Linked DNA regions of Homo sapiens: region 2 is linked to region 1. The links come from fine-mapping of genetic effects on gene expression. A gene starts in region 1. The other region holds a variant in brackets. All regions are shown on one strand. Distances are between the middles of the regions.

What was found. PIP is the estimated chance that this variant, and not a neighbour inherited with it, causes the effect. A credible set is the group of variants that fine-mapping cannot tell apart.
Region 2: its variant is the best candidate, but not a certain one, in a credible set for the expression of DGCR8 in whole blood (TOPMed, PIP 0.60).

Annotation. Positions count from the first base shown.
Region 1 is chr22:20,078,318-20,082,695 of GRCh38, forward strand. It overlaps DGCR8 (DGCR8 microprocessor complex subunit), which reads left to right and starts at 1,924. Exons shown (of 14, transcript NM_022720.7): 1 at 1,924-2,066. RefSeq lists a silencer at 1,803-2,422 and an enhancer at 2,683-2,742.
Region 2 is chr22:20,098,544-20,102,921 of GRCh38, forward strand. All of the region lies in intron 9 of DGCR8 (DGCR8 microprocessor complex subunit), which reads left to right. Among named protein-coding and RNA genes, the nearest start is that of MIR6816, 14 kb to the right of the region's middle. The variant C/T (reference allele first, on the strand shown) is at 2,258.

The sequences.
Region 1 (4,378 bases):
GCCTGGCCTAATTTTTTTGTAGGGGGTTGGGGGCCGGGGACCGAGTCTCGTTCTGTTGCCCATGCTGGAGTGCAGTGGCTGGATCTTGGCTCACTGCAACTCCTGCCTCCCAGGTTCAAGCAATTCTCCAGCTTCAGCCTCCGTAGCTGGGACAACAGGCACCTGCCACCAAGCCCTGCTATTTTTTTTTGTATTTATAGTAGAGACAGGGTTTCACCATGTTGGTCAGGCTGGTCTCGAACTCCTAACCTCAAGTGATCCGCCCGCCTCGGCCTCCCAAAGTGCTGGGATTACACGCATGAGCCACTGTGCCTGGCCTTGCTCACTATTTTTTCTGGAGACGGTCTCGTTCTGTCACCCAGGTTGGAGTGCAGTGGCCCGATCTCAGATCATTGCAACCTCCACCTCCCGGGTTCAAGCGATTCTCCTGCCTCAGCCTCCCGAGTAGCTGGGATTACAGGTGCCTGCTACCACGCCTGGCTACTTTTTGTATTTTCAGTAGAGATAAGGTTTCGCCACGTTGCCCAAGCTGGTGTGGAACTCTTGAGCTCAGGTGATCCGCCTGCTTCGGCCTCCCAAAGTACTGGGGTTACAGGCGTGAGCCACAGGGCCCGGCCCACTATTTTTATCACTCAAGATTTTCGTCTACAGCAGCTATTATTGGGGTGGCTACCCAGTGGAAAATTTTTCTATTTCCACTATTCCTTCCACATTTATTGACAGGAAAGCTAGTCTAAGGAAGAGCTGTACCCTCACTTACTCAGACCCTCGTTTTCCTTTTTTTTTTTTTTTTTTTTGAGACGGAGTCTCACTCTGCCGCCCAGGCTAGAGTGAAAGTGGTGCTATCTCGGATCACTGCAGCCTGGAACTCCTGGACTCAGGTGATCCTTCCACCTCAGCCTCCCGAGTAGCTCGGACCACAGGCGCCCGCCACCACGCGGCTAATTAAAAATAATTTTGGGCCCGGCGCGGTGGCTCATGCCTGTAATCCCAGCACTTTGGGAGGCCGAGGCGGGCAGATCAATTGAGGCCAGGAGTTTGATACCAGCCTGGCCAACATGGTGAAACCCCGTCTCTACCAAAAATATAAAAATTAGCCGGGCGTGGTGGTGGGCGCCTGTAATCCCAGTTACTCGGGTGGGTGAGCCAGGAGAATCGCTTGAATCCGGGAGGCAAAGGTTGCAGTGAGCTGAGATCGCGCCACTGCACCCCAGCCTGGGAGACAAAGCGAGACACCGCCTCAAAAAAAAAAAAAAAAAGAAAGAAAATTTGTAGATACTGGGCTCTCACTATGTTAGCCAGGCTGGTCTCGAACTCCTGGGCTCAAGTAATCCTCCTGACTCGACCTCCCAAAACTCTGGGATTACAGGCGCAAGCCACCGTGCCCGGCCGAACCACCGTGCCCGGCCGAACCCTCCCTGTTTTGGAAATCCTGTATTAGCAAAGGGGACAGCGCCAGACAGTTGAGCACACGCGTTCTTTATAAATGATGATGTCTGATACAGTGATGCTTTTAACAGGGTTGTGTAACGCCTGTGTGTGCACGGTCTCTTCTGCAGTGTCCACCGAAGGTGGCCCGTCTGCGTGTCCGCTCCCGGCGTACTCCGCGCTCCCTGTTCCCGGCATTCCCCGCGCTCCCCGAGCTTCCCGCGCTCCCCTGCTCCCGGCATTCCCGGTGCTTCCCGTTCCCGGCGCTCCTCGCGGCCGCCGCCCTCAGTCCAGCGAGCCCCGCCTGGGCAGCGACTGTTAGCGCGACCGCGGCCTGGGCGCCTGGTCCCTCCCGCGCGGCCGCGCTATTGGGCCGCGCGCGGCGGACACACGCGCTACGCGCCGCCGATTGGCGGCCTCCGCAGCGCGCTCTGCGGCTCCCCCAATGCGGGGCGGCCGCGCGCGGGGATTGGCCGCACGCCGCGAAGGCCCGCCCTCCGCTCGCCCGGCGCGGCAGGCGGGTGCCGGCGACCGGAGAGCCTGGACAGGCTTTCCAGATGGCTGCGGCGGTCGGTCGGTGAGGCTTTCCCGGCTGTGGTTTGGCTGCGGGCGGCTTGGGCAGCCCGCGGGCGCCTCAGGTAGGTGCGGGGCGCGAGGGGCGCCCGCGGGCGGTTGGGCGGGCGCCGCGGCCTGCGCGAGGGCGCGCCCTTCCCTCCCGCCTCCCTCCGGGACCGAGGCCGCGGGCGGGGCGGGGGCGCGGAGCCCGGCCTTTGTGAGGCAACATGGCCGCGGGCGGTGGAGAGCGCGGGGTGGGGACGCCTCCGGGGCTGGGGGGCGGGCCCCGGGCCCAGGCGTTGCCGACTCTCGTCGCTGTCCGCCCGGGTAAAGAGGCTCCTCTCCCGGAGGGCCCGAAGCCTAGCATCGCCTTCAGGCGGGAAAGGTGTGGACAGGGCCAGTGCTCGCCTGGGACCCTGCCGGCTTTAACACAGTTTGGGAAATCCAAGAAGTCGCCTAAGTCTTTTTGTCCACAGAATGCTCACGGGTTGAGTGTCACGTAGATAATTGGGATACGGTTTTATTGTAACAATGAGCATGGCGGAAATAAATGGAAGGTGGCAACCTGTTGACAGTGATGCCTGTCTGGTGTCAACCGATGGACTTGGGTTTCTTGTGGCAGGAGTCTGATTTGCCTTTTTGCATGCTTGCATGTACCTTGTTCCTGCACGGCAGTCCTGTCTTTGGCTGTCGACTGTTCGAGGCCAACCACCAGGCGAGGATCCACTGTTTCCTGGCCAGACTAGACTCCCAGCTGTGGGAGTGGCCCAAACCCTGCTGCAGGCCTTCACTCACAAAAGGGAGTGAATGGCCAGCCCGGGGTACCCAGTGTTGCCTCTAAGTGCGGGATATGAGGCCTGTTGGAGGATGACAAAAGGAACGGATGAGGTCATACTGCCGCTGGGTTGGGCGGGAGGCTGCAGCGGGAGAGACTTGACCAAAAGGCAGCCTCCATGGCGCTGGCACTGGTGCTGGCCCGTCACAGCCAGTGCCTCTGTTAGCCAACACAGCAAGTGGGCTAGGAGGAAGGGTGCTGTCCAAGTGTACGGGTTTTCTCCCCGTGCCAAGGGTCCAGGGGAGCTTGCCGTGAGCCCGTTCCTGTCCGATAGTCCTGTTGGCAAGGCAGGGTTTGCATGCGGTGTTTGGTCAGCTGGAGCAGTGGGGAGGCCTACGGGCAGAGAGCTCCCCTTTGAGCCCTTTGCGGCCAGGCGCTGTGTGGAGCACTTCCCAGGGGTTGTTTTGTAGTCTCACCGTGACCTTGGGGTAGGAAATGTGCTTCTGGCTGGCTTGCCCAGTCTTAGACTCTCTTGTTGTAGCCCTCTCCTTTGTGATGTCACCCAGCCTCCTGACTTTAATGCCAGCTTTCCTTGACATCTTCACAGCTCCAGCCCTGGCCTCTCTTCTGATTTCCAGCCTGGTGTTTCTGGCCACCTCTTCCATATCTCCATGTGTTACTTTGGCGCCAAGTAGCCATATCCAAACCAAACTCAAATCTTCACCCATGCCAAAACATTCCTTGGCCTATCTAAAGTCCCTTTGATTCCTCTCTTTCTTACACCTTCATGCAGTCCTAAGGAGGCCCCGTCAGCTCACCTATTTCTAAGCACAGACCATTTCTCACCACCTTCAAGTTAACATCCTGGCCCAGCCTACCTGGTGAGCCTCTAATTCTCTTTACTGTCACCTTAGGTCCTCACTCCCCATCCACCATCTATAGTTTTTCTGGACACAGAGTGATTCTTCTTTCTTTCTTTTTTTTTTTTTTTGTTTTTTTGAGACAGAATCTCGCTCTGTCGCCCAGACTGGAGTGCAGTGGCGTGATCTCAGCTCACTGCAACTTCTGCCTCCCGGGTTCAAGCGATTCTCCTGCCTCAGCCTCCCAAGTAGCTGGGACTGCAGGCGTCCACCACCACCACGCCCGGCTGATTTTTGTATTTTTAGTAGAGACGGGGTTTCACCATGTTGGCCAGGCTGGTCTCGAACTCCTGGCCTCAAATGATCTGCCTGCCTCAGCCTTCCAGAGCGCTGGGATTACAGGCGTGAGCCACTGTGCCTGGCCACAGAGTGATTCTTTTTATTTTTTTGAGACAGAGTCTCGCTTTGTTGCTCAGGCTGGAGTGCAGTGGTGCGATCTCCCGCTCACTGTAAGCTTCGCCTCCTGGGTTCAAGCCATTCTCCTGCCTCAGCCTCCCGAGTAGCTGGGACTATAGGCGCCCACCACCACACTCGGCTAATTTTTTGTATTTTTAATAGAGACGGGGTTTCAATGTGTTAGCCAGGGTGGTGTCGATCTCCTGACCTTGTGGTCCGCCTGCCTCAGCCTCCCAAAGTGCTGGGATTACAGTCGTGCACCACCGCGCCCGGCCCAGAGTGGTTCTTTTAAACCATAAGATGG
Region 2 (4,378 bases), 20 kb after region 1:
TTTTGTCATATGTCCTTGCTCTCTATTTGTGACTGTATCAGTTTGCTAGGGATACTGTAACAAAGTGTCACAGACTGGGAGGCTTAAATGACAGAGATGTATAGTCTCAAAGTTCTGGAAGCCAGAAGTCCAAAATGAAGGTGTCAGAAGGCTAAGAGAAGGCCTTTCTCCGTGGGTGGAGGATAGCGATCTCCATGTCCATGCCTTTCTCTCTGTGTGCATGCTGGTCTCCACATTGCCCATTTGATAGAGACACCTGTCTCACTGGATTAGGCCCTACCCTAATGACCTCATTGTAATGTGATGACCTCTGTAAAGACCTTGTCTCCAAATACTGTTGCATTCTGAGGGACTTCAACATGTAAATTTGGGGGTGACAGTTTACCTCATAATAGTGACTTTCCTAGATTGATTCTGTGAAGTGTGTATTCTTTATGATTTGTGGCCACTGAATACACGGGCCCTTTAGCTGAGTGGTCTCCTGATGCTTGGACAGGGATTTTCGTAAATTCCCTGAGCCAGTAAGTCTCCCGGCCTGTGATGAGAGCTGTGGGTCTGTGGGGCTCACCTGGTGTGCTCCGGTGGCTGCCAACTGTCTTAGCCTTTGTGTGCCACCTGCACAGAGTCTCCAGGTCAGTCAGCTGGGAGGTTTTCCTGGGCCTGTGCGCAGTCATCTCCAGACATACGCTAGAGCCTTTCAGAGCCCCATGGACATCTCCAGCTTTTCCTTCTTGGGTTCTTGGCCAGCCTCTTGTTTGCCCAACTAGTGCCCCAGCCTCTGGCAGCTGCAGGGTGAAACAGTTGCCACTGGTTCCTTTTGACAAAAGCCCTCAGGAACTGGGCTGTTTTCACTGAGTGAGATCAAATAAAGACAAATCCTGCCATGAGGCTTTTCCAGAGGGTGGCCAGGTAAACCCAACAGTGACAGTTCTCTGGGCCTGGGGCCTTGAGGACCCGTTCTCCATTGAGTGGCTACCACTGAGCTGGGGAGAAGGGCTGGGAATGGGGCGAGTTAAGATGCCAGCAACTCCTTGTTCTTAGCAAGACTCGTTGTCTTTCTTGAATCAACACTCCTCAGATTGTTGAAAGCCTTTCTTTAGTTTCCAGGGTTCTGAAAGAATTAATTCTGACCATTTTTGCTAGTGTTCTTGTTGCTTTAATGGAGGAGAGCAGATTTTGGAGGTCCTTATTCGGCCATTCCAGAACTACTTTAGGATGGGTTTTGTAAAGTTTTCTCATCTTTGTGGACTGGTGCTGTTATAAAATATGGTTAAGTGTCTATGGTAGTACTAACTTGCTCTTAAGTTTCTTGAACTCCTGGCTTCAAGCAGTCCTCCTGCCTCAGCCTCCCAGGATGATGGGATTACAGGCGTGAGCCACCACACCTAGTCTCTTGCTCTCAAGTTTCTACATGTTTTCTGTGCTTTATGTAACTGCTTCATCGTGGACAGGCTACAGACAGATTGCAGACCACATGTGGATCAAGCACAGTCTCCAAGTACTAGCTGTTCCAGGAAGAGTCACATTTGTCCCTTTTTTTTTGAGATGGAGTCTCGCTCTGTTGCCAGGCTGGAGTGCAGTGGTTCGATCTCTGCTTACTGCAACCTCCGCCTCCTGGGTTCAAGCGATTCTTCTGCCTCAGCCTCCTGAGTAGTTGGGACTACAGGTGCACGCCACCACGCCCGGCTAATTTTTGTATTTTTAGTAGAGATGGGGTTTCACCGTGTTGGCCAGGATGGTCTCTATCTCTTGACCTCGTGATCCGTCCGTCTTGGCCTCCCAAAGTGCTGGGATTATAGGCGTGAGCCACTGCACCTGGCCACATTTGATTTTATTTCTGAGTGACCCAACCGTGGGAAATATGGCTCCCAGGGAGGCTTCCAAGGCCCTCTGGGGAAGTGCTTGCGTAGACCCTGGCCCACCAAAACTCTTAGTATGGGTTGCTGCAGACGATGGTGCCTGAGTTGTGTAGGTCTCACGCTGCCTTCCTGTCTGAGTAAAAGCCCTGCCTGTTCTTTGCTATGGGGTGGTGGAAATGTCCATGAACCACTGTGGTTTCTGGTGCCAGGAGAGGGCCCAGCGGGGAGTCAGGTTCTCAGCCTCCACTCTGGGGTTCTTCTGTGAAGTGGAGAGGCTTTGCAGAAACCACATTGCAAAGTAGTCTGAGAAAGAAGAGGTTTCCCCAGGTGGAGAAGGACATGGGGGTGGGGCATGTGGTGGCTTCCGCTGTAGACTCCCCTGCCTGGGGCTTTTTCCA[C/T]ACCCCTACTCCGATCCTCCCACACTGCAGCCTGTCTGGAGCTAGCGTCATATCTCCCCAGGTAAGGAGCTCAGTTTCGTGGGACTGCCCCCACTTCCTGTGCCAGCCGCAAATGGGGGCCCCTGCCACCCGGCACAGGACCCCTCCTCGTGCTTGGAAATTTGCTAGGACTCAGGAACTCAGGAAAAATTTTACTTATGAAACTTATTTTTCATGAAGGGCTGAAAGTTCCTCCCCTCTACTGACACATTTGATTTCTCCGGGGAGCCCACCCTGGCCACCTCCTCAGCATAAGCTCTGTGGTGGGGTCGTTTTGAATCACAAAAGACAAACCTAGCACTCAGGAAATCCTCAGGGTTTTAAGAACTCTGTTCTGGGAACCTGAGAGAAGACCGTGTGTTTTTATGATGCCATGCCTTGGTTTAGGGTGCCTTTTGTATGTGCCCCTCCTGAGAAGCTCTTTGACCCTCTTATTTGTATATATGTCATCTGTGGGCTGGGCGCGGTGGCTCACGCCTGTAATCCCAGCACTTTGGGAGGCCGAGGCGGGCAGATTACGAGGTAAGGACATCGAGACCATCCTGGCTAACACGGTGAAACCCCGTCTCTACTAAAAACATACAAAAAATTAGCCGGGCATGGTGGTGGGCGCCTGCAGTCCCAGCTACTCGGGAGGCTGAGGCAGGAGAATGGCGTGAACCCAGGAGGCGGAGCTTGCAGCGAGCTGAGATTGCGCCACTGCACTCCAGCCTGGGCGACGGAGCGAGAATATGTCTCAAAAAAAAAAAAATGTATATATGTCATCTGTGATGTCCCCATTTAAAAATCTGTCAGAGGGGAAAGTAGCTTTTCCCTCCGTTGTAGGGTGGTGGGGGTGTTTAGACAGGGGTGGCCATCTCCTGTTCCTGGGAAGTTTCTATTTGCTGGTCCTCCCTAGCGAGGCTCTCAGGTTGTGTCCCCGCCCCCTGCTCCTCCCAGCTGCCTGTGCAGAGGTGCCAACACCTGTCCTTGGACTGTCCCCTGGACAGCCTGGGGCGTGGGGTAGTATCCCCTCCTTGTGTGGACTCCGGAGGTGGGGTTGACATGTCAGGAGGGGCGGGTTGATGCCTGTGAGGTGTGGTGGCCACGCGTGTATGCTACTTGATTAAAAAGGGAAAAAAGGAACAACTGGCATCATTTCCTTTTCACAAAGCTTGTGGTGATCTCTTGGTATTTTGTTGCTAGCTGTGGGTTGGTGGTTCATGGCTATTAAATTTAGGTATTAGTGACCAAGTGTTTTCTTTTTTTTTTTTCATCTTATTTTAAAATTTACATAGAGTTAAATTCACTTTTTGGTACAGTACTGTGAGTTTTGACAAATACACAGTCATGTAACCAACACTGCAATCAAGATGCAGAACATTTCTGTACATTCCAACATTCTTCTTTGTTGGTCAAACTCTCCCACCTGTATCCTCTGGTGGGCACTGAACTGCCCCTGTAGTTTTGCCAGATCCTGAATGTCCTCTTAGTGGAGTCACCTGGTACGTAGCCTTTGAACCTGGCCTCTGGCTTGGTGTGGTGTGACGCATCCGTCGTGTGGTCATTTGTACTCCTGAGTGCTGGCCACCAGGTGGCTGTGCCCCTCAGTGCGTCTCTCCATTCTTCCTTGAGGGACACTGACAGGTTTCTGGGTTTTGGTGATGGGCAGTAAGGCTGCTGTAAGGTCGTCCAGGTCTGTGTGTGATGGGCGGATTCGTTTCCTTCAGGTAAACCCTTGGGATGGGGTTGCTGGGCTGTGTGGCAGGTGCACGCTTATGTTAGCATTGCCCTCACACCTTTCTCAGTCACTAGGTGACCGTGGAAGTGTGTCTGTTTTGGGGCTGTCTACTGTCTTTCGAGCTGTGTGTCCTTTTCCTGATGCCACACTTTCCTGATGACTTGAAGTCTTGATACTGGGAGTCCTCCAACTTCGTTATTCTTTCTCAAAAAATTGTTTTGGCTATTCTAGCTCCTTTGCTGTTCCATGTAGACTTTAGAAACAATATGTCAGTTTCTATAAAAAATTCTGGGCTGGGTGCAGTGGCTCACGCCTGTAATCCCAGCACTTTGGGAGGCCGAGGTGGGTGGATTACCTGAGGT